Linked DNA regions of Homo sapiens. The protein of the gene in region 3 interacts with the protein of the main gene of each other region in a biochemical or structural test. Each region holds a gene or a part of one and is shown on either strand. Other genes may lie near its edges.

What was found.
Region 1: the proteins of ROCK2 (region 3) and CDKN3 form a complex in vitro, tested with the Homo sapiens proteins (one study listed by BioGRID).
Region 2: of the proteins of ROCK2 (region 3) and PPP1R14B, one has a biochemical effect on the other in vitro, tested with the Homo sapiens proteins (one study listed by IntAct).

Annotation. Positions count from the first base shown.
Region 1 is NC_000014.9:54,413,287-54,421,206, forward strand, and holds the end of CDKN3 (cyclin-dependent kinase inhibitor 3), read left to right. Parts: intron 1-2,612; coding exon 2,613-2,644; intron 2,645-4,561; coding exon 4,562-4,665; intron 4,666-4,927; coding exon of another isoform or gene 4,928-4,987; exon of another isoform or gene 4,988-5,020; intron 5,021-6,705; coding exon 6,706-6,792; 3' UTR 6,793-6,932; downstream 6,933-7,920. UniProt on the Homo sapiens protein: May play a role in cell cycle regulation. Dual specificity CC phosphatase active toward substrates containing either phosphotyrosine or phosphoserine residues. Dephosphorylates CDK2 at 'Thr-160' in a cyclin-dependent manner.
Region 2 is NC_000011.10:64,243,218-64,251,778, forward strand, and holds PPP1R14B (protein phosphatase 1 regulatory subunit 14B), read right to left. Parts: upstream 3,727-8,561; 5' UTR 3,457-3,726; coding exon 3,199-3,456; intron 2,873-3,198; exon of another isoform or gene 2,649-2,872; intron 2,071-2,648; coding exon 1,987-2,070; intron 1,746-1,986; coding exon 1,713-1,745; intron 1,606-1,712; coding exon 1,537-1,605; 3' UTR 1,262-1,536; downstream 1-1,261. Other genes in the region: peptidyl-prolyl cis-trans isomerase FKBP2, read left to right, coding at 1-94, 234-280, 624-659, 751-812; PLCB3 (1-phosphatidylinositol 4,5-bisphosphate phosphodiesterase beta-3), read left to right, coding at 8,433-8,531. UniProt on the Homo sapiens protein: Inhibitor of PPP1CA. Has over 50-fold higher inhibitory activity when phosphorylated.
Region 3 is NC_000002.12:11,179,778-11,187,985, forward strand, and holds part of ROCK2 (rho-associated protein kinase 2), read right to left. Parts: intron 7,147-8,208; coding exon of another isoform or gene 7,095-7,146; exon of another isoform or gene 6,008-7,094; intron 4,993-6,007; coding exon of another isoform or gene 4,902-4,992; exon of another isoform or gene 4,889-4,901; intron 3,664-4,888; coding exon 3,660-3,663; 3' UTR 1-3,659. UniProt on the Homo sapiens protein: Protein kinase which is a key regulator of actin cytoskeleton and cell polarity.

The DNA.
Region 1 (7,920 bases), on a different chromosome or scaffold from region 3:
ATAGTTAAATGTAGCTGGGGAAAAATATTTTCCAACATAGGGCCCTATTTTTCAAACCATTTTGAGATCTTTTTTTTTTTTTTCAAATAAATTTTTGAAAGCAGCCTCTACTGAAAAGTTTCCAGAAATCAAACTAGCTCTGTTTAGTGAAGTGAAGCTTAACAAATTCTACTGTAGCTGGTTCTGGCAACCCAAATGCTCTGATGTTTGTGCAGAGTACAAACAGGATAGACAGTAGATGGGTGACTTTGCATATGCTGAATGTTTCAGTCTCCCATAAAATAAAGCATCTGACAACTGGCATTTTTCATTGTCCTAGAGCTTTCGAAGGTGTCCTACGGTGACTAGTTTATTTTCTATCCATTCTGCCATCTTTGAGGACCCACACTTCTAGACAGCTATAGAGCTTATCCTTCAGCAACAGGATCTGGTAAACCTTTTTCACTGACCTGTTGTCTACCAGTGCTGTCTCACTGGTTCTGCCTGGACATTTGCAGCCCTTTATAAAATTAGTGAACAACACTGCTTGCCTACTGTATTTTGTAGTTTCTTGGGGCTATTGTAACAAAGTACCACAAACCAGGTAGCTGAAAACAACAGAAATTTCTTCTTTCCCATTTCTAGAGGATGTAAGTCCAAAATTAAGATGAGAGCAGAGCCATGCCCTCTGAGACTGAGGAGAGTCCTTCCATGCCTCTTCCTAGCTTCTGGTGGTGGCCATCAATCCATGGCAGGCCTTGGCTTGCAGCTGAATCCCTCCAGTCTGCCTCTGTCATCACACACTTCCTCGGATGTCTGTGTCTTTGCATGGTGTTGTCCTTGTGTAAGGACACTAGTCATCTAGGATGAGGGCCTGCTCTAATTCGTCTTAACTTGAATATACCTGCAAAGACTCAAATTCTGAATAAGGTCCCACTCACAGGTACAGGATAAGGACTTCAGCATGTCTTTTGGGGGGACATAATTCAACCAGTAACACCTACCGTGTACCACACGCCAAGACTACCAAACGAGGCACAGTCCCCACCTTCGAGGAACCTATAACTAACACTACCATTTAACTGCAATAAGACAGGAGAGGCAGCACACAGGAAAATGATCCTTTCTGTAGGAGCACAAAGGCATTTTAGGAAATGAAATTTGAGGTTTTAAAAGATAAGTAGGAATTCATCAAATAGAAGAAAAAAGATGAAAATAGCAAAAGGTATAAAATAGTATTAATCTTGCAAAAAGACACTGAAGTGTTCTATCTTGATCTTTTTTTTTTTTTTTAATAAGGCAGTTGTCTCTTCTCTGTCACCCAGGCTGGAGTGCAGTGGCACTGTCATAGCTCACTGTAGCCTTGAACTGCCGGGCTCAAGCGATCCTCCCACCTCAGGCTCCCGAGTAGCTAGGACTTCAGGTGTGCGCCACCGTGCCAGGCTTTTTTTTTTTTTTTTTTTTGGAGAGACAGGGTCTCACTTTATTGCCAAAGCTGGTCTTAAACTACTGGACTCAAGCAGTCCTCCCACCTTGGCCTCCCAAAGTGCTGGGATTATAGGCCTGAGCCATCATGCCCAGCCTCTCCCTTTATATGGTAGATCCAGATCTCTGAAACAGTTCTATGTCTGGAACACTTTGTGGAAAGCAAGTTCACGAGTAAGACTAGGGGTCAATACCTATTCAGTCCTCTATTTCACATCCTAAAGCAAAATATATATCTACAGCTTTACCTACAATACAATACAATACAATACAGTAATTGATGTCCATAACGATAAGTCATCCACACTAAATTAGGCTCAGTATACCCTCTAAGTACATTAGGAAGCATGTAATACATTTTTTAGGATCTTTGAAAATGACTTAAATGAATAGTTTTGCTACTGAGGATTAATCTCCATTTTTCTGGAAAATCCAGTTATACAAAACTGCTAATTTCTTTACAGTGCTAGATAACAGCAGCTAATGTTCATTTACTTCTTACTCTGCACAAAGCTGTGTTCTAAGTCCTTGGCAAATGCTCACTCATTTGTGAGCCTCATTTAATCCTCACTCTGATGTACATACTATTGCTATCACCATTTTAAAGGTGAAAAGGCTGAGTCCCAGAGAGATTAAATAACTTGCTTAGCTTTACACATCTAATAAGTGGCAGAGCCAGGACTGAAGCCCAGGCAGTGGTGCTCCAGAGCCCATGCTCCAGACTTCGGTGATACCCTATCTCTGGACTCCTTTAGATACATGAATGGTTATTATCTACATGGCATTTGTGCAGTAACCACTCAGATTTTGTTTAGACAGAGGAATAATCAAAGTGACAGTTGGTAAAAGTCTGATTTCTATCTATTGGTAACATGCTCCATTTCTCAGATGTGGATCTTGGAACCTAAAGAGGTCAATAAGAAGACTCTGCCTATCTTGATGCTTAGAGGTGTTCAGAATTCCTCCCAACAAAGAAATAAGCACACCTTGCTCTCAGTTGATTAAATCAAAAATATTTATTAATCTTCGTGTGCAAGGCACTGTGCTAGGCATTAGAGTTGTAAATAGAAGGCAGAAAGAGCAAGTCTTTAGTTGTAACTAGGGATGGAATGAAATGTACAAACTTCAAAACTGTATTTCCCTTTCAGCTGCTATGGAGGACTTGGGAGATCTTGTCTTGGTAAGAAATATATTTCTATTATTTTTTTAACCGCCAAATAGACAAACTTCTGTTTCCAGACCATATGTTCATTTTGTATTAAAATGGAACCAAGCAAAATATAAGTTTGCTAAGACTCAAAGGATTACTTAAGGCCCTAAACATGGTGTTCCCTGGAAAGCTTGGGTGGGAGTGGGAGGTATTTTCAGCATTGTTCTGGAGGATTCTGGCAAAACATCATTTACAAGTCTTAACACCTGCATTCTTATTTTTTAACATTTTTTGATGTTCTTCCTGTGGAGGTGTTATAATAGAGTAACTTCCAAATAGTTTCCATGGGTAACTATTTATGAATACCAAAGTTAATTACTATATGTTAATTTAAAAAATGTTTTAATGTACTAAGAAAAACAAAAAAGAGTTCGTGAAATGCCACACTGGAGTAGTAGTTATTTTTTTAGTGTTGGATGATATCAAAATTGAAAGCTTTTGTGTTTCAAAGAATACTATCAAAATGACAAGACTACCCATAGAATGGGAAAAAATATTTGCAATCTATATATTTGATAAGGGATTTGTATCCAGAATATAAAAAGAACTCTTACAACTCAGTAATAAAGATAGGCCGGGCGTCGTGGCTCATGCCTGTAATCTCAGCACTTTGGGAGGCCAAGGCAGAAAGATCACCTGAGTTTAGGAGTTTGAGAACAGCATGAGCAACATGGTGAAACCCCATCTCTACAAGAAATACAAAAATTAGCCAGGCATAGTGGTGCATGCCTGTAGTCCCAGCTCCTTGTGGGACTGAGGCTGGAGGACTGCCTGGGCCCAGGAGGTCAAGGCACCAGTGAACCGAGTTTACACCACTGCACTCCAGCCTAGATGACAAAGTGAGATCGTCTCTCTCAAAAGAAAAAATAATAATAATAAACAAACAACATAACTGAAAAATGGGCAAAGTATCCGAATAAACCTTTCTACATGCAAGATACACATATAGTCAGTAAGCACATGAGAAGATGCTCAACATCATCAGTCATCAGGAAATGCAAATCAGAACCACAGTGGATACCACTTGACACCAATTAGGAAGGGTATTATAAAAACATGAAAAATAACAAGTATTGGCAAGGATGTAGAGAAATTCGAACCCTCATACACTGTTGGTGGGAATGTAAAATGGTGCAGCGGCTTTGGAAAATAGTCTAGCAGTAGTTCTTCAAACAAGTAAACATTAACATATGACCCAGCAATTTCACTCCAAAGTATATACCCAAAGACTTGTATACAAATGTTTATAGCAGCATTAATCATAATAGCCAAAAAATGGAAACAGCCTAAATGTCCATCAGTTGACGAACAGATAAACACAATGTGGCATATCTATACAATGGAATATTATTTGATCATAAAAAGGAATTAAATACAGACATATGCTACAATATGTATGAACCCTGAACACATTATGCTAAGAGAAGTCAGACACACACAAAAAAATATTGTATGTTTCCGTTTATGTGATTGCTCAGAATAGGCAGATCTACAGAGACAAAGTACACTAGTGGTTGCCTATGGCAGGGGTTGATGGGGAATAGAGGATGACAGCAAAAGGGTACACTTCTTTCTGAGGTGATGAAGTGCTTTAAAATTGACTGTGGTGATGGTTGCACATATCTGTAAATATACTAAATCACTGAATGGATGAACACTTTAAATGGATGAAAGAATGAAGCCAGTGTTAAACTCTAATTCAACCATACGGTCATTTAAGATCATAATTTAACTGTCAAAAACACACACTAAAAGTCTCAGTCTTTTAATTCATTTGGAACAATTACACCAGTCTTCTGTATCAACAGAAGTCTTATTAAATATAAAATGCTGTACCCTGTCACTAGTTATTTAATAACATATTATTTTTCTGTCATGTTCCATTAGTAGCTGCTTGTCTCCTACTATACCTGTCTGACACAATATCACCAGAGCAAGCCATAGACAGCCTGCGAGACCTAAGAGGATCCGGGGCAATACAGACCATCAAGGTGAGGAGGTGGGCGGTGCTTGCTTGGTTGTGGTTGGGGTCGTTGTTACAAATACAGATTCATGTGTAACCAAAAGGTTACATATGAAAATCCAAAAGGGCAGTGAAATGAAAATCCAAAGCACTCTGTTATTCAAATACCACTTGCTTATGCTTTTAGTTTTTAAAAATTTACAAGTAAATATAATCCAGGTAGTCTAAAAAAGCACACAGGATTTCAAACAAGATAATGAAAATTTGAACTTCCTGGTTTACTTTTCCAGGATCTACCTACTTCTCAGTTTTTGCCCCAGTCCGTTTTGGGAATGGATCCTCTCACCTAGGACAATGAGATGGTTATTGTTAATACAAACTTGGTACGTTCTTGGGTAGATTCTTGGCCAAAAAAAATCTATGGAAGATCTTGTTATATCACCAAAACATTTAATAAAGACAGATGAATGACTATAATACAAAAAATGGAAAGCAGTGCTAATTATCCTTTGCAGTAGATAACTGGGGACATCTTCCACATGTACATTCCCCTAACACTTCAAAACACTGCACTAGCAATGCCAAGGATATTGCATTAATCATGTTACTGAAAAGATTCTGCAGATGTCACTTCATTTTGTAGATCTGTAAAGCTAATGTGCCTTCTTTTCAGAAGCGTGCCCTCTCAGCATTAGAATCCGCTCATCAGAGGAGTGGGCACCAAAGAATCCTGGCTGTTAGGCAGCTCCCTAGACTTGAGAGCCCATCTTCCCAGGGTTGGAGGTCTAATCCAGTGTCATTAACAGTGAATTATCATAATTACTGATAAATTCACCAAGCAACCTGATTCTTAGGGCTTAAATAAGGTCATTAACGGGACAATCCATACAAGATCCACTCCACTGTACAGGTCTGAAACAGACAACTCTCTTTATGTTAAAAATCAAACGATGCGGCCAGGCGCGGTGGCTCATGCCTATATCCTAGCACTTTGGGAGGCTGAGCTGGGTGGATCACTTAAGGCCAGGAGTTGGAGACCAGCCTGGCCAACATAACGAAACCTTGTCCCTACTAAAAATACAAAAATTAGCCAGGGTGGTTATGTGTGCCTGTAGTCCCAGCTACTTGGGAGCCTGAGGCACAAAAATCACTTGAACCTGGGAGGCAGAGGTTGCAGTGAACCGAGATCACACCACTGCACTCCAGCCTGGGCGACAAAGTGAGACCCTGTCTCAAAAAAAAAAAAAAATCAAATGATGCTTCAAATCCAAAAAGTTCACCTCTCTTCTCTTGAAAACAAACTACATGGCCATGGCCAGATGTATATATGAATATCCATATGTTTTACATCTTTAACATTGCAGATAATTAAGTCCATATTACTACAGACTCAGTTTATCACCTCAGCATTCTGTGGCAAACAGGCTTGCTGGTGTTAGCAATGCAGTTTCCACATCTCAATAAGGATATGAAATGAGATGATTGGCAGAGTAAGAATATCTTTTGGGAGGCTATTAAAACTCCAAATAAATTATTTAAAGCTTTTATTTTGCTTATCTGCTGAGATTAGCAATACAGTTTGTTTTTAAAAAATATTGTCTATGAAAATTATCCCTAGTGCATTATGTCATCACAAAAAAGCAGAAGACTAGGGCTTCTATAAATTGAGAAATGGATTTTGTTAAATATACCAGTTACTTGCTACAGAAAGTGCTCTGTCCTTCTTACCAGGGGGGAAAAATGTTAGCAAAAATAATGCCATTATGTACTGTTTTAATCTTATTTGGTCCTGTAAGTAAAGAGAGAAAGAATTTTAGACTTAAAACATATCCATCTACATTTCATTTCACCTTCTGATTTTTAGAGACTTGTAGAACAATAGTTTTTCACACTATATGGCTTTACTAAAAGATAAAACTTCCCCATGATGCAAATGCTTCCTTACCCAAAAAGATGTAGAATTGTGCTTAGCAAGTATTTTTTTTTATTCCTGATACCTGCTAATATTGTGCCCACACTGATAACTAGTTTTCTACAGTGTATTCCAATGTATCTTTACTTTTTTCAGCAATACAATTATCTTCATGAGTTTCGGGACAAATTAGCTGCACATCTATCATCAAGAGATTCACAATCAAGATCTGTATCAAGATAAAGGAATTCAAATAGCATATATATGACCATGTCTGAAATGTCAGTTCTCTAGCATAATTTGTATTGAAATGAAACCACCAGTGTTATCAACTTGAATGTAAATGTACATGTGCAGATATTCCTAAAGTTTTATTGACAAAACTCGTTGTGTCTCTTTCATTTCTTATAGGAATAGGAAAATTGGGATAGGAAAATTGGTATGCAATTTTCCTTTTAGAAATGAATTGGTTGTTCTGGTATATTCTACCTGGAGGTAATGCTGAAAACATGCATTTGGAAAAATATTTGAATGCCTATTTTTAATACTTAGTACTGCACTTTTACTTCATTTTACTGTTTGTAACCACTGGGTAGCATATGACAAAGTAGTAAGTATGAGAATTGGTATGAGTGCCCAAACTTACTTTTAAATGATGTCCCCCTCCCTCTCTATTCCTCCCAAAACTTCTTCCGCTTTTTACTTCATAGACCTCCGGAATTGAAAAGGATCCTGTGAGTCTTCCACTCGCCCCCTCCCAGTACTGGATCAGCCCCAAGGGTGTTTATTCACTATGGGCTGGAACATTTTCAGAGACAAGGAATTCACTGGTTCAGACAGCTGCTCCACCTTTTGTCCGCCCTAGGAACTACACGGAATGAGCTTAATCCTTTCACATTTATTTCATAAAGAATTTAGCTACAGATTAACAATTTCCAACTCTCTCACTCTTTCACTTCCCCCTATACTATGAAACCTATCTTTTTTCATCTTTAAATTCAACTTTGAGTTACCCAAAACAGTCATTTGGGCTGTAGACAAGGATCACACACAATGTGTCAAACAAACACACTTGTTTTAACAGTCAGTGGTTTCAGTAGGGCTTACAGTAGTCACATGGCTCTCTTGGCTACTGGTAATTACAAGTGTGAACCAATGGCAATTTGGCAATGACCACCAGGTTGCAGACTCATAGGCACTTCCACAAAAGACAAAGTTTCACTACATCAAAATTTCATTTTTAAATAATTATTCAATGACTGGCTGGGCGTCATGGCTCACGCCTGTAATCCCAGCACATTGGGAGACCAAGGTGAGCAAATCACTTTAGGTCAGGGGTTTGAGACCAGCCTGGCCAACATGACGAAACCC
Region 2 (8,561 bases), on a different chromosome or scaffold from region 3:
CAGAGTTTGACAGCAGCCTGCCCCAGAACCAGCCCTTTGTCTTCTCCCTTGGCACAGGCCAGGTCATCAAGGGCTGGGACCAGGGGCTGCTGGGGTGAGTCATGGGGGAATGGGCTTGGGAGTGGGGGCGTGCATGGCCACCGCCCAGGAGGTAAGCTGTGGGAGGCAAGCCCCAGGGATACAAGACAAGGGCCCTGGGTGCTGCCATGGGCTGAGCATGTGTCTTCCTGCAGGATGTGTGAGGGGGAAAAGCGCAAGCTGGTGATCCCATCCGAGCTAGGTAAGAGGCCCCTCCTGAGGGTGCAGAGCGAGTTTGGGGTGTGTGACTGGGAAGGGTGAAAGCTGCTTCAGCTTTTCATTGGTCTTCACCGTATCCATTCATTACAATACATGCCTCCTCCAAGTTTGGCTGTGTCTAGCAGTGAGTACAGGGCAAGATCATTGAAGCACTCAGCTGTAGTGGCCCCACTCTGCCCTTGCCAGGCCTTTGGCACCCCCTTCCCATCTCCATTACCCTTCTCCATTTCTGGCCTTCTTGCTGAGAGGGGCGGAACACTCTCCCTTTGCCCACACTGGAAGGGAGCTTGGCCATCACTGACTGTTTCTTTGTGCATCTTCAACAGGGTATGGAGAGCGGGGAGCTCCCCCAAAGATTCCAGGTAGTAAACCTTTTGATACCTCCCATCACCTGCAGCCAGCCCACCTCCCTGTGGCCCTGGTTGGCATTTTGACTCCCCTTCTCCCCTACAGGTGGTGCAACCCTGGTGTTCGAGGTGGAGCTGCTCAAAATAGAGCGACGAACTGAGCTGTAACCAGACTGGGGAGGGGCAGGGGGAGAGGCCCCCATCAGGGACCAGACTGTTCCAAAAAAAAAACAAAAAACAAAAACAAACAAAAAAACACTTAAAAGCCCAAGGAGTAAGCCTGTGTGTGTTTGTGGGCCCTGAGAGACTCAGAGACCTCAGCTCCAGCATACCCCACCACCTTCTCCTTTCCCGACTGTGGAGCCTTGGGGGTCTAGGCTCAATGACATGGTGGCCCTTGCCCAGAGAGAAAGGAGTGTTCCTGCCTGCCAACAGCAATACTGCTCCCCCCACCCCCACAGCTCCCCAGCCACTTTCAACTCCTGGTCTGGGAGCCAGCACTGGGCTATCGTCATGGCTACGTGGCCCTTAGGAAGGCCTGTGGTCACCTGGGGAGAAGCTGAGCTGGCAGAAGTCAAAGAGCAGTGTGCCCCCCTAAAAGAGACCAGCCGAGCCTGTTAGCTGCACCAAAGGCGTATCCTAGCTTTATTAAAGGGCCCGCGCCGCAGAGTCAATATAAAAACACAAAAAGTCCCATCAGTTTAATAACAATAAAAAACCCCAAAAGTGGAAAACTGAGGGGGCAGGGGAAGAGACCCCTGGGCCAGGGGCACGAGGAGCCCTGCTCATGGCACCAGGCCTGGCCGCAGGGTCCCCCGGTATTGCTGTTGCTACGAGGTTGGGGGGCAGCGATTGTCCTGTGGGAGCCACCGTTCTCCTGGGTCGGGGACCGTCACTTCTTCTGGGGTGTGCTCAGCTTCTGCATGCCCCGGATCTTGTCCAGCAGGCCAGAAATGAAGGCCTGGATGGGGTGGGAGGGTAAACATTAAGGAGACCAGACCCCAAGATGACAGGAGCCGGGCTCCCCTCACCCTGCCACCCCCGCCAGCCCCCCAGGAAATCTCTTACCTCTGTGGGTTTGTAACAGTCAACCAGCAGCTCCTAGCAGAGGATGGGGGAGGAAGGATAAGTGAGTCCTCAGGAGTGGGGGCCTGGAGCTCGCCTATACCCACTTCCAAGAGACTGGGGCCACCCTGAGGCACAGGAGATGCCACAACAACCTCACAGCTAGGCATTGGCCCCATTCTGTTGAGGCAGGAGCTGGGGCTTGAGGGCCTGGCTCCACAGCCTCACTTTCCCGGGGCAGTGCCTCAGGCAACCCATCGCCCCCCAGCCCCCTCACCTTGACCCTGGCAGCCCGGGCATCGTCACTCTCCATGTCCAGGAGCTCATCCACGTCAATCTCCAGTTCTGGGATCTCCTCTTCCTGGGGTGGGGGTGGGGGAGGAGGGAGAGACATAAGCCTGAGTTGGAGAGAGGGTGTGAGAGGGGCTCTGGGTTGAGGCCCCTGCCTACCTCGGAGGAACCCAGCCCTCTGCCCAGCAGACAGAACAGCAGCTGCTCTGGGGAGGAAAACAGATCAGGCCCGTGCCAAGGCAAACTGCCCAAAGCGGGGTGGGGGGGGGAGCTTCCTGTCCCTGCCAGTGGGCACGGGGGGTGACAGACAAGGCCAGACAGCCAGGGTTGGGGACCTTGGGCTGGGAACCCAGCAGATGTGTCTCCCCAACATCCGGGCCCCCCATCTCACCAGAGCACCGGTGGGTGCAGCTGTCCCAGCTTATCATACCCCCCTCCCCTCCCCCAAACACCTGTCACAGCTCCCCGGGAGTGAGGAGGAAGTGAAGGCTGAGGGGTCACTGGGAAGGACCCAGGCCTGGCAAAGAGGAAACAAAGAGCCCATGCTTTGGTGAGGGAGGGGATGCCCACCACCCTGCCACACCCTCCCCAGGAAGCCCCTATCCTGTTTGTAGTCAGCTGCATTCCAGGGCTGGGCTAGGGTAGGCAGGCAGCACCGGGCAAACCCACTCCTCCACCCTGCCCCCCGGGGCCTGAGTCACCGTCTGAACAACCAGGGAGTCATGGGGGTGGAGAAGCAGAGCCCAGAAAGCGGGCTAGCCTGCACGCACGCCAAGATGGAGCTCCAGGCTAGCCCACAGAACAGCCCAGCCGCAGCCGTCCTACCAGACCAGCACCTTGTAACCACAGTCTAACCCAGCGGGCACCAGGCGGTGAGACCTCCTGCCGCTGCCAGCCCAGGATAGCCCCCTTGCCTCTTGCCCAAGGCTCAGGCTACCCCTTGAGGCGTCTGGAGGACACTAGGCTTGACCTGGGGAGTGGCATGATGGGGGGCAGGGTCCGAGGCAACGGAGAAGGCAGAAGTGACTTAGGTCAGGCAAGAAAGAGTATATATTGGGGGCGGGAGTGCAGAGGGGAGGGGAGCGCGCGGGGAAGCAAAGCGCCCTTTGACTCCAGTGACAGGCGAGCTCACAGTGGAGCTGCCAGGCGGACCGGCGCGAGACCGATTTTGGGGTGTCGGCGCGGGGTGGGAACACACCTGGCAGTCGTAGAGGCGCGTGAGCTGCTCCAGGATCCACTCCTCTAGGTTGAGGCGCTTCCGTAGCTCCTTGCGGTCATACTTGACGGTGACCTTCCCTTGGCGCCTCACTGGGCCCTCATCGTCCGCCCCGCCCGGGCCCTCTCCTGCGGCCCCGGGGGGGCTCTGAAAGTAGACGCGTGGTCCTGGGCCGCCACTGCCCGGCCCGGGGGCCGGGGCCGCCAACGCCGCGCCCCCCGCGGTGCCGCTGTCCGCCATGGCGGCCGCCGGGGCCACGTGCGAGCGTCGGGCCCCTCCCTGCGCCACCGCCTCCGGGACGCCCGCCGGCTGGCTCGGGTTAGCTCGCCGGCTCCGCTCCGCGCGGCTCCGCGGCGAGGGCGGCGGCGGGGGCGCCCGGGGGCAGCTGCAGCATGCGGAGCCCCCGGGCTTGGCCTGGCCGCGCCCCGCCCCCTCCCCGCCGATCCGCCCGCCCTTTGTCCCCCGCGGCCGCCGCCCGAGCTGCAGCCGCCGAAGCGCTTTCTCTGTCTCGCTCTTCCTCCGCCCCCCGACCACACCCCCTTAAAGGGCCAGCCCCTCTACAGGCCCCTCTCCCCTACTCCGCCCCCGGGCAGGGGTAGGGGAGGGTCTATTCGGCAGGGGGTGGCCTAGCTGTCCGTACTCCCCAAACGCAACCTTCCAGTCCCAAACCCAGGCGTTCTAAGCGCTCAGGACGACGATTTGCGCTCACGCCAGGACCCTAGTCTTCATTGGACCCTTCCTCATTCTGTCCTCATTGAGGCCATCTGAGAATAGGGGCTATCTGAGAATGCAGGGGAGTGGACATCGTGTGCAGACAGGGAGTCTGGTGAGGAGACGCTGCGGTCCCCGATGTCCAGGTCCTCCAGCCCTCGGCCAGCGAGGAGCGAACGGGCTCCTCCGCACGGACCGACACGTGGACTGGGCTCCTGGGAAAGGAAGAGTGGAGAAGGCGGGCAGGAGCTGTCCGGGTCCCTAGACTCTCCGAGTAGCAGGTCCCACGCCCCCAGCGGAAGAAGCCGGGGCTGGGGGTGAGCGGTGGCACCCGGCCGGCCCAAACGGCCAACCCCGGGCAGCCACCGCCCACCGGCAAGATGGCGCGAGGCTCGGGCTTGTGGGAAACGGAGTCCGCTCCCGGCGCCGCCCCTCCCCCGCCCTGCGGCCAGGCCGGGAAGCGCAAAGTTGTTTGGGGCGTCCTCTGCGCCTCGCGACCCGAGTGCGCACAGAGGGGGAAACTAAGGCGCAAAGAGCTGGGCAGTGCGGGGGCCGCGACTTATAATAATAAAGGCGGTAATTGCGGCTGACCCTAGGAGCGTGCGTCGGGACCGCCGCCCAGTCGGCTCCGCAGAGAGGGCGCCGTGCCGGGGCTCCTGCACCCCCGCCCTGCGGCTCCTCGGTCCTTCACATAGCCCTGGCCCACCTCCAATAAGCCGACGGCGCATCCCATTCCCTCCCTCTATTTTATTTTCTGCATCTTTAAATGGTCTCATTCATTCGTGTATTGTCTGTCTCCCACTTCTAGATTGTGAGTGCCACGGGGCTGAGGCCTGCGCCGACCTGGTCTGCTGGTGCTACCAGGCTTGAACAGTCTTCAAATCCACTGCTATTAGGCAAATTACCTGGCTCCCGCTGAACTCCAGCACCTAGAACTATGTCACACTCGTAGTAGGCCGCTGCATTGGTTGAACAAATGATTTTGAAAGAATGAATGTCTTCCTCTGTGCCTGCATTTCCTCAGAAGGCTGTAACAAAGATTAAATAGGAAAATTCGTGGAAAGTTCAATTACTACACCACAGAGGTTAATTAAGTCGCACTGCTAGATAAAACGGGAGACGAGACTTTGAACCCAGGCTGTGTGGCTCAAACCCCCTGACACGAAGTCTCTACTCAACCTCCTCACTACCCTGTAGACACCACCCAATAAGGCTGCGCAGCTCCCGGGGGATGTTTCTGTGGAAGGCAGGCTCACCTTGTGCCACCCCAAACAGGGTCTTGGATCTGAGAGGCAATGTTTCTGCTCCAGCCCCTCAAAGACACTCTTTGGATGTTGTGGGGGGAAGCCCTCTGCAGCGGGTGGGGTTCAGAGATGGATTGGGATTGGCCCCGGGGTCACACAGCTGGGGCTGCATCCAAACTCCAACCCAGGATGTTGGGCTCCTCCTTTGCCCTATAGTCAGAGAGAAGAGACCAAGAGAAGACAGAGGCTGGGCATTGTGAAGGCAATGGGCTCACAGGGCTCAGTTCAGGGAAGGGTAGAGTGAGCTGACCCCTCCCCTTCCCGTGCCCCTCCTCCGGCCTCAGCCTCCCTTCAGCCAGTCTGGGTGCCGAGGAAGGGCTGACCCTCGCTCTTGCGGATTAGGTAGGATCCACCCTCTCCACCGGGAGCCCTATCCGTGGCCTGGCCTCCTGCCCTAAGCCTGGCCTGATAGGAGGATCACTTTACCCCAGTCCAAATTCCCCACCACACCCCACCAGGCCAGGCCAGCTCCCTCTGAACCCAAGCATTGTTTGTACCTTGAGGGTGCACACAGATTAAAGGGGGAAGACCCTCAAACAGCCCCTAATGCCCAACAGCTTCTGTGGAAGTGGGGCCTGCAGGCCATGAAGACCCCCAGCCCTAGCTCTGCCCCCAAGATGCTGTGACCCTGAGCCCTGACCTTTCTGTCTGTCCTCCCTCAGGGTTGGTGTGAAGGTCTCCAGCCATGTCCGTGTCCACAGGTCAGGCATTCTTTCTGACTCTCCCTCTTCCCCCCACCGCGCCATGCCCAGGCACACCCAGATTCCTGTCCAGTTCCCATGGCTATCCACCCGAGACCACTTGGTGCAGGTGGGCATGCTGGCCTGCCACCTTCTTGGAAGCTGGGCCACAGAACCTTAGCCTTGGAGTAGAAATACTGGGTTCAAATCCTGGCTCTGCCCCATGGGCTGAGAGGCTGTATGCAAGTCACTTACCTGCTCAGAGCCTCTTCAGGGGGCTTATGGTCCTGACCTCCTGTGGTTGGGGGCCCATGCCCAGCCCTGGCCCTCCTGCCTGAGCCCTACTGGGACTGGAGTGTACCACTGCTCCTCCTCCTTCTAGCCTCAGTCTGTGGCCTCCCCAGCCCTACCCCTTCCAGGGCCCCAGCCCCCCTCCATTAGAGTGCATCCTTGAAGCAGAGGCTCTGGGGAGGGTCCTGTGGGTCAAGACCGCTCCTTCAATCAAGGGTAGAGTCCGGAAAGGCTGCCTGCCTTCACCATTACTGCCTGCTGAGATACCCTATTACCATTACCAAGGATGGAAGAAAGTGTCTGGGAAGGAAGGAGCCCTGTAATGGGGGCTGCCCTGGCCTCCAGAGACACAGGGTTGGGGGAGGAGAGAGGCTTAAGCCCAGGAAACAGGTGCCCATCCTGTTTTTTTCCACAAGGAGCTGCTGCCCAATGCTTCTCTAAAGTACGCTTGCACAAGGCCTAGGGCCCACAGCTCAGATCCCCTAAGCTCAGGCCTTGGCTCCAGGCTTTGCTAGCCCTGGCACAAGCTGGAGGTTCCACTGCCCCAGAGCTGACCTATGCCCTTTCCTCCCTCCCTGGTATACCCACAGCTTCCAGCTACTCATGTCAATTTGGCATCTCCCACCCATTTGCTTATGTATACAACAACCTTTAGGTTCTGGACAAGGTGACTGAGGCACCTAGAGAGACTAGGTTCTGCCACTAGCAAGAGGCTGCTAGCAAGAGCCGGATTTGAACTCCAGCCTGTGAGGGCAGAGGCCAAGCTCCACCTTGCATGGTTCTGTTTTCCCAATGAGGTCTAGAGGCTCCTGGGCCTCAGGAAGTCGGAGGGTTGAAATCCTCCTAAGAAGCTGTGTGACCTTGGGCAAGTCCCTTCCCCTCTCTGGGCCTCAAGTGGAGATCATAATCACACCCCACAGGGCCAGGGCTGAGAGCGAGGAGATCCGCCAGGTTAGAGTTGATGGAGAACTTGGCGGGGTGTGGAGGAAGGCCAGGGCCAGGCAGGGCTCCTTGTGGAGGTCTCAGAGCCTGGGGCAAAGGGGCCTGCAGGGGAGCTCCTCCTTTGCTGACCCCTCCTCCCCCAGAGCCAGCTGCATCTCTTTCTGGGTTTCTAGGTGACTTGGCTGGCCCCTCTGGATGAGTTCTACTTTAAACCTGCTGCTGTTACTGCCTCTGTATTGGGGGGGCTCCCACAGGGGCCCCCAGGCAGGAACCCCCCCCACCAGCTAAGCCCTGCGGGAGGGGCTGCAGCCCCCACCCATCCCATTGCCCATGCGCCTTCCCCGCTCCCATCTCTGGAACGCAGATTTCAGGGCACCTGCTGTGGGCCAGGCACTGCAGAGCCCCTCCTCAACCCTCCTGTCTGGGGACATCCACAAAGCTTCTGACCCCTCTGGGCAGACAACAGCGTTCCCCCCGCGGTTCCCAGCCAAGAGGCTCACAGTCAGGTTCCAGTCATGGGAGTCTGCAGCAACAAGAAGGGGGCTGTTCTAGGGCTCACTCTCGAAGACCAGGATGCTTGGGTCCTTAAAGGAGGTGGCAGGCGCCCGGCCTCCCTGGGCTAGGGACGGGGGAGGGGTGCCTGCCGGCGGGAGGTCCATTAGCCGGCTAAGTGCTCCCAGGGAGGGGGGACCGCGCGGCATAAGAGTGGGTGAGGCGAAGCCAGGGCAGAGGGGGGCGGAAGAAGCTTTTCCTGCATTCAGCTAAGTGCGGCAGAAGAGGGTGGGCGACAGGGCTGTGCAGCGACCCCCCGGCCCAAGTCTAGCCCTCCGCTGGTACTGCAGCCCTAGTCGCTCGGAAACCTCAGTGGGCTGATCCCGGACCGCCTTAAGCAGCGCCCTCTACACCCAGTCCCTCCAGCTGCTCCCCAACAGCCACTTCGGCCCCCAGCGCCCTCCTTCCACCACAGGCCTGAAGAATCAGGTTCTGCTGAGCCCCGCAGCAAAGCCCCCGACCCGTCCGCGTGCCCCTGCCCCAATCCCCGCTCCGGCTGCAGTCGCCGCCCCGGCCGCCAGGGGGAGCCGACGCGGTGGGAGGGGGCGGGGCCCGGGAGGCCCCGCCCCGTCCCCGCCCCGCCCGGGCCCCGCCGAGGCTCTGGTCGGTCCGGGACAGACTGGCGGGCGGGCGGGCACTGACGCCGCGGGGCCGGAGCGGGCCGCGCGGTGGGAGCAGCGGCGCCGTCGGTCCCCGTCAGGGCTCCGTGGGTCCCCGACCCGCCCCTGGCCGGGCCATGGCGGGCGCCCAGCCCGGCGTCCACGCGCTGCAGTTGGAGCCGCCCACCGTGGTGGAGACCCTGCGGCGCGGGAGTAAGTTCATCAAATGGGACGAGGTAAGCGCGCGGGCCCCTGCTCCGCCCAAA
Region 3 (8,208 bases):
ATTTATTTTATTTTATTTTTTTATAAAAAAGCAGGCATAAAATACAATTACATTACTACGAAGATGCAACAAAATTTTAAAAAAGAAAAAGGGGTGCAATTTTTTTCAGAGAGGACAGCTGATCAAATATTTATAATTTTCTAAACCATGCAGTTCATTACTTATTACAATTCCAAACAAAACTCATTATTATGGGGATGGGAGTCAGGGAGAGGCCCCCCCCCAAGCATGATATCCAGCGCTGTCACACAGTGCTTATGTTCAAAGTGCTTACAAATGGTGTCTTCACAGCATAGGGAAGCTGAAGCCTTATTCCAGGGAAGGAGAGGTGAGTCAGTAGCAGTGTCAATGCAGACTCAGAAGCTCGGCAGTGACTTGCTCAAATCAGATTTTAGACACGATTTAAAGCATGTTTCAGTAAGGTTAATATAGTGTCCGAGTTTCTCTACTTTACCACCAGAATCCTAGAAGAGAGTAACAGCAGCAGCATAACTTCTTAAAACTGTGGTGTGGCAACCTAGAGTATTTCTGTTTAAGATCTATATATAAATGGATGCAAAATAGATACTTTAGAGCCAGATTCATGTAACTCTAACACAGGTTAGTTTTAAAGGCACTAACCTTTACTTTGGCTTTACTGGTATGCTTATCCATTAGTTAGCTGGAACATTTTAAAACTTTCATATAGATTTTTAAAACTTGTTTCTAGAGAACATGGTTTTTTAAAATTAATACTTTAAAAACATTCACTGTACATTAATTTCAACAGTAATACCGGCACCAGTTTTCCTTTCACTTCTGTCTCGTTATCCCCACAAAACAAAAGTAAAAAATCCAATAAGAAAATCCCAGTATTCATGATTTCTTAGTTCCCCATAGGAGGTATTTATGGTTCTAGGAGAAATCAGGTGTGAAGGAACAAGCAAATTTTAGTCTTATATTTATCTTGGAAGCTTCAGGGCCTCAAGAAAAACGAGAAACGAGCACAAAATCAGGTTGTTTTATATTTAATAAGTGTTGGGAAGAAAACACATTGATAGGTGCATGCACTCATGTATGTACATGAAAGCGGCAATGCGGTAAAAAGCGAATTCTTACCCAAGGTCAGAATTTTTTATTAAGCGCATTTTCATTAGTTGGACAAACAACCTTATAAACCCTTATGTCAAACCATATAATGTGAAGAATCTCCATGGGAGAGATTTTTTTTTCACCCTTCAGAATTATCTTTTTCCCCTAAGACCTTCATATGAATCTTCCTTGTACAGTTGGTCACACCATGATTCCCCATATTCTCTAATATATACAGCATTCCAAATTTAAACTTTTGCCTTTTTTACTCAAATATTTCAGTTACTCATATGTAAACTTGAAATTATTTCACCTTAATAAAGTTTATTAAAAATATATATATATATATATATATATATATACTCTCCAATTCAGAATAGGATAGAACCTCCCATAATGTAACAAAATCTTTATATAAAATATTAATTCAGTCTCCTTTTAACAACTCTAATGAATGGAAATATTTATTCTATATAAATTTATATATTTTTCATTTTTTAATCTTACTTAAAAAAGAGCTATCCCCCAAAACCAGAGCTGCAGAACACACCTGCAAAGGAAACGGCATGCACGTCTAGTCTGAGCACAGACAGCACAGCAGAGTGCAGACTGGAGAACGTTAAGAATAACAAAACCAGTTTCAGTCTATCAGTAGGCCAGTAGCTACTCTTCAGTTTCCACAATAGTATCTATTATGGGGATCTAACTTTTTAAATATCTCTAACTGACATCAGAGGGAATCAATGAAAAATGTCTATTTCCTTCATCGAAATATTAGATGACTTTTTTTTTTTTTTTTTTTTGAGACGGAGTCTTGTTCAGCTGCCCAGGCTGGAGTGCAGTGGCTCGATCTTCGCTCACTGCAACCACCGTCTCCTGGGTTCAAGCGATTCTCCTGTCTCAGCCTCCCAAGTAGCTGGGATTACAGGCCACCACCATCATGCCCGGCTAATTTTTGTATATTGGTAGAGACGGAGTTTCACTATGTTGGGCAGGCTGGTCTTGAACTCCTCACCTCAGGTGATCCGCCCGTCTTGGCCTCCCAAAGTGCTAGGATTACAGGCGTAAGCCACCATGCCTGGCCAGATGATGTATTTAAATATCATACCAAACTCTGTGTATTTATATAAAGAGAGACTGTTAAAAGACTTCATAATATAAAAAAAAACAAAAACAAAAAAAAAACTTTACGCTTACCATTGCTGCATATTGTTGCAGTATAAAACACACACTTATCTGGGATCATGAGAATACGGCAAGAATGTCCTGCGTAAACTGTAACTTTGACAGCATTTAAAAAATAAAAATCAAATTAAGTGCCTTTGAGGCCACTTCTTCCCAGTTGCCAGTTTTCTTAACCCGGTACTAAAATACTGCCACACACAGCTGCATGTCTGAGGATCATATTTAAATATTTAAAATGCATCTACAGTCTGTCTTAGTTTTCTTTATATTTGGGAAAAATTTTGAATCTTAAGTGTGAAAATGTAATCACAAATGTCTTTACCAGGAATAAAAACACATCTAGGGTAGCCAGCAAATTTAAAGCAAATAAAATATTTTGTAGTCACAGACTAATACTGAGGTCTGTAAAAAGAGTTGAATGAATAATAGACAGACATCAAGGATATATTAGTTCCAACACCATCCATTATTGTTTCTATAACCAATAATACTTTAAAAACATTTGTTAATCAAAATAGGCTGACATTGATATAACTATTTATGTGTAAAAATAGTGCACGATTTATCTTCCACAAAGCTAGTTTACATCCTAAGAGCTGGTAAACGCTTTTTTTGTTTTTTAATACAGACAGGGCTGAGACTTTGAAAAAAATTAAATTAAGGCATTCAAAATGGGTAAAGTTGCCTATCATGAAGCATTAGGAAACTGATATAATTAACTTTAAACTTCTTGTTACAGTAACTGCTTAAACATGAACATGCAACTTCCATCAGGTACACAGGAATGAGTGATATAAACTCCAACATTATGGCTTTATACAAGTGCATAGTTGCAACTGCAGCAAGTAATGATATCTGATTAATGTGTATAAAAAATAAAGTGGGAAGTTTAAAAAACCTTCTTGCAGTATTAGAGTACTATATATATATATATATATGTGTGTGTGTTTATATATATATACACAGTATAATGGTCACTTCTTAAAGATGCAGTCAATATCACTGTAGTGGAATCCATTCCCAGATTCTTCTGGTAAATGTGCTGGTGAAACCTCTCTGTTGAAGCTAGAAAAGATGTTTTCTTTAGCCTTTAACTCTTCTCAATCCTTGTGTGCATTGTAGTGTGAGCGACTGCCGAGAGAGCTTTATGGAAAAGTCTGGAAGAGTTGCATATATCCTTAGTCTATCAACCAATCATTGTTGGTTCAACCTGTTGCTTCAAAGGAGCCCAGATTTGTAATTTATATTACAGGGAAAAGGGGAACACATATATGTATGAGTGTATGTATCAGTCTCTCAGGAAAATATAGCTTTTTAATAAATTTTGGGCCATCATATTTCAGTCTTGTTTTCACTGGAAGAATACGATCACCTTGAATAATGACTGCTTTCATAGAAGGCAGTTAGCTGAAAAGAAAGGAAAAATAAAGTTAGTTGATACAGTGAAATAATTTAAGAGTGTTAAATTCCTAGAAAAAGCATTCCATTCACATTATTAAACTATATAGTCTTCCAGCTACTATATTTTTTAACACTAAAATCATGCATAAACATACTTACTGTATTACTTTTCCTATAGGTACAACATGCAATTATATTCTTTCCCAAAACAACTTGGGATTTTGGAATATTAGCTACACACATTACACACACATTTTAATATGGTTAACAAGCTATTAGGGTTAAACAATATACCACAGAATAACTTAGAAGATAAAAGTTTGATTTGGGGTTTAACTGCCAGCTGCCTCATGTAGCTGAAAGGGAAATGGGCCTATTGATCAGGTTCTACTTGGCTGTTCAACCCTAAGCCACATTTTGTTTTTCTATAAGATAGGACCAACTACATTGTTGTAGTAAATATATACAAGCTACTCTATGAAATCTGATTATAAATAGATACCAGTACTACCTGATTTATGTTTTGCAACTTGCTTACTTAGACTAAAACACACATTATTTCTTTTAAATCCTTCTATGTAAAAGGTTTAACTTGAGGCTCAACTTTCATTCAAATCTCCTTTAGCCACTATTAACCAAACTATTTTACATTTTCTAAAAGCACAATTCTCACAGCGTATCACTGACATTCTTCAGCAAGGGTAACATTAAATTCTCACAAAGCAAACATTTCACAGCACCACACACAAAAATGCCAAATCAGAAATAGCTATTTCACAGCACTTATTAGACTTATAAAGTTTTTATGCTTTCAATTCTTGCAAGTTGGAAATAAAAGGAGAGAGATGGAGAAAGGAATCTCATGCTATGTTCACAAACTAATATAGCTGTAGGAACTTGAAAACGTTGTAAATTTTACTTCTCTTCTGAATATGGCTTCTTTGGAATGAACAGAACGTATCAGAATTAACTCCTTTTGTGATTTCTACATCTCATTCCTAAGATAAATTCTAACTGTACTAAAAATTTATAGCCAATAAAGAATCTGAACATAGCATTTCACTTTTACACTTAACATGTAAATTTCAGTTAGCAACTTTTCGAAAACTACTTTTAACTATATACTATTAAAAACAAGTTTCAAAAATAAAAAATAATGAAAGCCCAAGTGGCAAACCACATGCACTACGTTGAAGTACTAAAATAACTGATTTTTCATTTTTTGATTTACCCCATTTATTTCTTCAGAAATCAAAAACATCGTCATCATCATCACCACCACCATCAACATCATCAAATGACCAATCCCAGTCTTTAAATGCCAAATCAAGCAATCTGCAATAGGAGGTTTGTAAATTTATACTCTAACACTCTTTAGAAACTGTAACTTAATGTTATGACTTAGAAATCATACTTTGAATGTGCTTGTAAGCATTTTAATTTTCCCTTCATGGATAACAACAAGATTAAAATTAAGACGGACGCACATAGGGAAGCCTTGCCCTTTATATATAAATGCATATAATCATGTTGGCCAAGTACACTTTCCAGATATTTGAAGACAGCGATCATATTTGGGATAATAAGAAACAATCTGCTTCTCCCTCCTCACTCCCATACCCCAGATAAACACATAACCATCCTGATGCCCAGTTTGATTTGAGAATTATGAAAGCACATTTGTCAATGTTCCCCTTCACCAAAGTGGTCAGATTGTCAGCTCAGTTTTTCCATCATAGCACCAAAAACCATGGGGTAAAAAGGGAGTAATAGAATAAGAAAGCAGCTTTCTGAATTCCAGTAGGACCCTGCCTGCTCAATGTGTCACCAAGAGCTTTGTCCTGCATATGAAAAACTAGGGACAAGGGAAAAGCCACAGGTACATAAGTAGCATTAGCAAGTCATCTTGGCTAAATTGGACTTAGAGTTGGGATATATGTGGTCTTTTCTTTCTAATTCAATAACCTAAACTGTAATATTGCTATCATCTTTGTTTTTAAAAATAGCCACCTGGCCAGATGCGGTGGCTCACGTCTGTAATCCCAGCACTTTGGGAGGCTGAGGCGGGCAGATCACCTGAGGTGAGGAGTTCAAGACCAGCCTGGCCAACATGGTGAAACCATGTCTCTACTAAAAATACAAAAATTAGCTGGGCATGGTGGCAGGTGCCTGTAATCACAGCTACTCAGGAGGCTGAGGCAGGAGAGTCACTTGAATCCAGGAGGCGGAAGTTGTAGTGAGCCGAGATCGTGCCATTGCACTCCAGCCTGGGGAACAAGAGTGAGACTTCGTCTCAAAAAATTAATAAATAAATAAAAATAAAAATAAATAAATAATAAAAAAAAGCAGTAACTTTTTCATTTTTAAAACTGTGGTGTTCATGAATCAACTTGTGCCAAGGAACTCATCTGGTCCCCAAAGTCTCACCTGTAATCACTATTGTCAGTGGTTCTTATTTACACACTTCTAAAGTAAGAAACTTTAGTGTATATGATTTACCTACTGCTCTTTATAAGGCCTCATTCCAAGAGATTTAGATATGACTGAAAAGGGCCCAAATATTTGCATTTTCAAATAAAAAACCTGAGGCGATTTCTGATACAGCTGGTTAACTTTGAGAAACACTGACAGAATAGGTTAATGGATGATTACTCTAATTTAAAATAAACACAGCGACTCAAATTACTCTTTTAAAATGTGCTAAACACAGCACAACATTTGAGAAAACACACAAACAGATATAATTACTCACTGAACACATATCGCAACCTGGCACACACTCACTTCTCTAGACTTATATATAATGTAACTTATAGCCATAGTTTCAGCTCTACTGCTTGGGAGATTGTGATCAGCAGGCCTTCCAGGGCATCCAAGCCTCAGCTTTAGCATAGGTTAGGAGAAAGCTGCATTGCATACCCTTTCAAAACCTTTGAAGTGTGTGCCAGTGTCACAATCTCAAATTTAAGTCTAATCGCTAGATGCGACTGTAGTGTATGACGAGACTTCCCTTACAACCCTCTCCCTCATCCCTTCGAATCAGTCATCTAATTCTAGTTATTTCAACTGAAGAAATCTTTCCAAATCCAGGTTTATTTTCTTCGTTTTCATTGTCAAGTACTCAGTTCAGGATCTCATTAAGCCTGAATACCAATCCCTTACTGAAAGACTTCTACTTATAAATCAAAACTCCTGAGCACAGTGTACATGGAGCTTTTCAGTTGGGTTCAGACTTTCTCTCTAGTGTCACATCATCTTTTACCACTCCCTACCCTTGCCTTCTCCCAACGCCAAGCCAACACAAAATTACAAATACATAAGTAATTCTGATGACTTTGTACCTCTGCACATGACATTTTGCTTGGAACTGATTTTCCCTTATTTGTCTGCTTGTAAAATTATCCATCCTCCATTGTTTGAGATCTTTCTTAATGTCCTCAGGCAGAATTCTCCATGCTTCCCTCGTTTCCCCAAGCGCTCTGTTCATCCCTATATTATAAACAGCATTTTACATAGTACTGTAATTGCCTGTTGCTTGACTGTCTCCACCATTAACAGGGATATAGTTCAGGCCTGCGAAACTTATTGTCAAAGATGCTTTGGAAAGAGTGCATTTAATTTGGAGTTCTACCAGCAGTCCACAAAAGTACCCATTTCGTTTCTTAACCCGTGCCAGTTTGGCAGGTGAAAAATGGTTTTATGTTATAGTTTTAATTTAATGCTAATTTCTTAATACAGTAGTCCCCCCATATCCTTGTCTTCACTTTCCATGGTTTCAAGTTACCAGTGGTGAACCACAGTCTGAAAACATTAAATAGAAAAGCTCAAAACAACTTAGAAGTTTTAAACTGCCCAACGTTGTAAACAGCGTGATGACATCTTGTGCCATCCCACTCTGTCCTGCCTGGGATGTGAGTCATCCCTTTGTCCAGCATATCCATGCTTGTTAGTCACTTACTAATGGTCTTCATTATCAGATTTTAAAAAATTGTATGTGTACGGTCCAGTACTATTCGTGATTCCAGGCATCCACTGGGGGTCTTGGACTACATATCCCTTGAGATAAAGGGGGACTACTGTAATCAGGCTGATCACTTTTTTTTACATTTAACAGCTATTTCCATAATAATGCCTGCATGCGCCTCATTAATTTTGTATGGGGATGAGGCAATCTTTTTTCTCAATGATTTATAAGAACTTTTCGTATGTGAAGATACTAACTCATCTTTCTCATATATTTTGGAAATACATGGTGTTTTTTAAATTTACAAGGCTTTACTTTTGGGGTAGTTGATCTTTGGCTTTGTTTTCTTTGCTTTTATTATTTGGAAGTTCTTCCCCAATTCAAGATCAGGTATATATTCACCTATGGATTTATTTTTGACACTTCAAATTGTATATAACTTCATTATTTTCCCAAGTAGACTGTTAATTCTTTAACATTTAGAAATGAGGAAGAGCAAAGATAAGATAATAATGACACAATAGCTACTTCCTCCTTTAAGTTTTAACTGTGCTGCCATGTTTTACACTTCTTAAAACTCGGTAAGT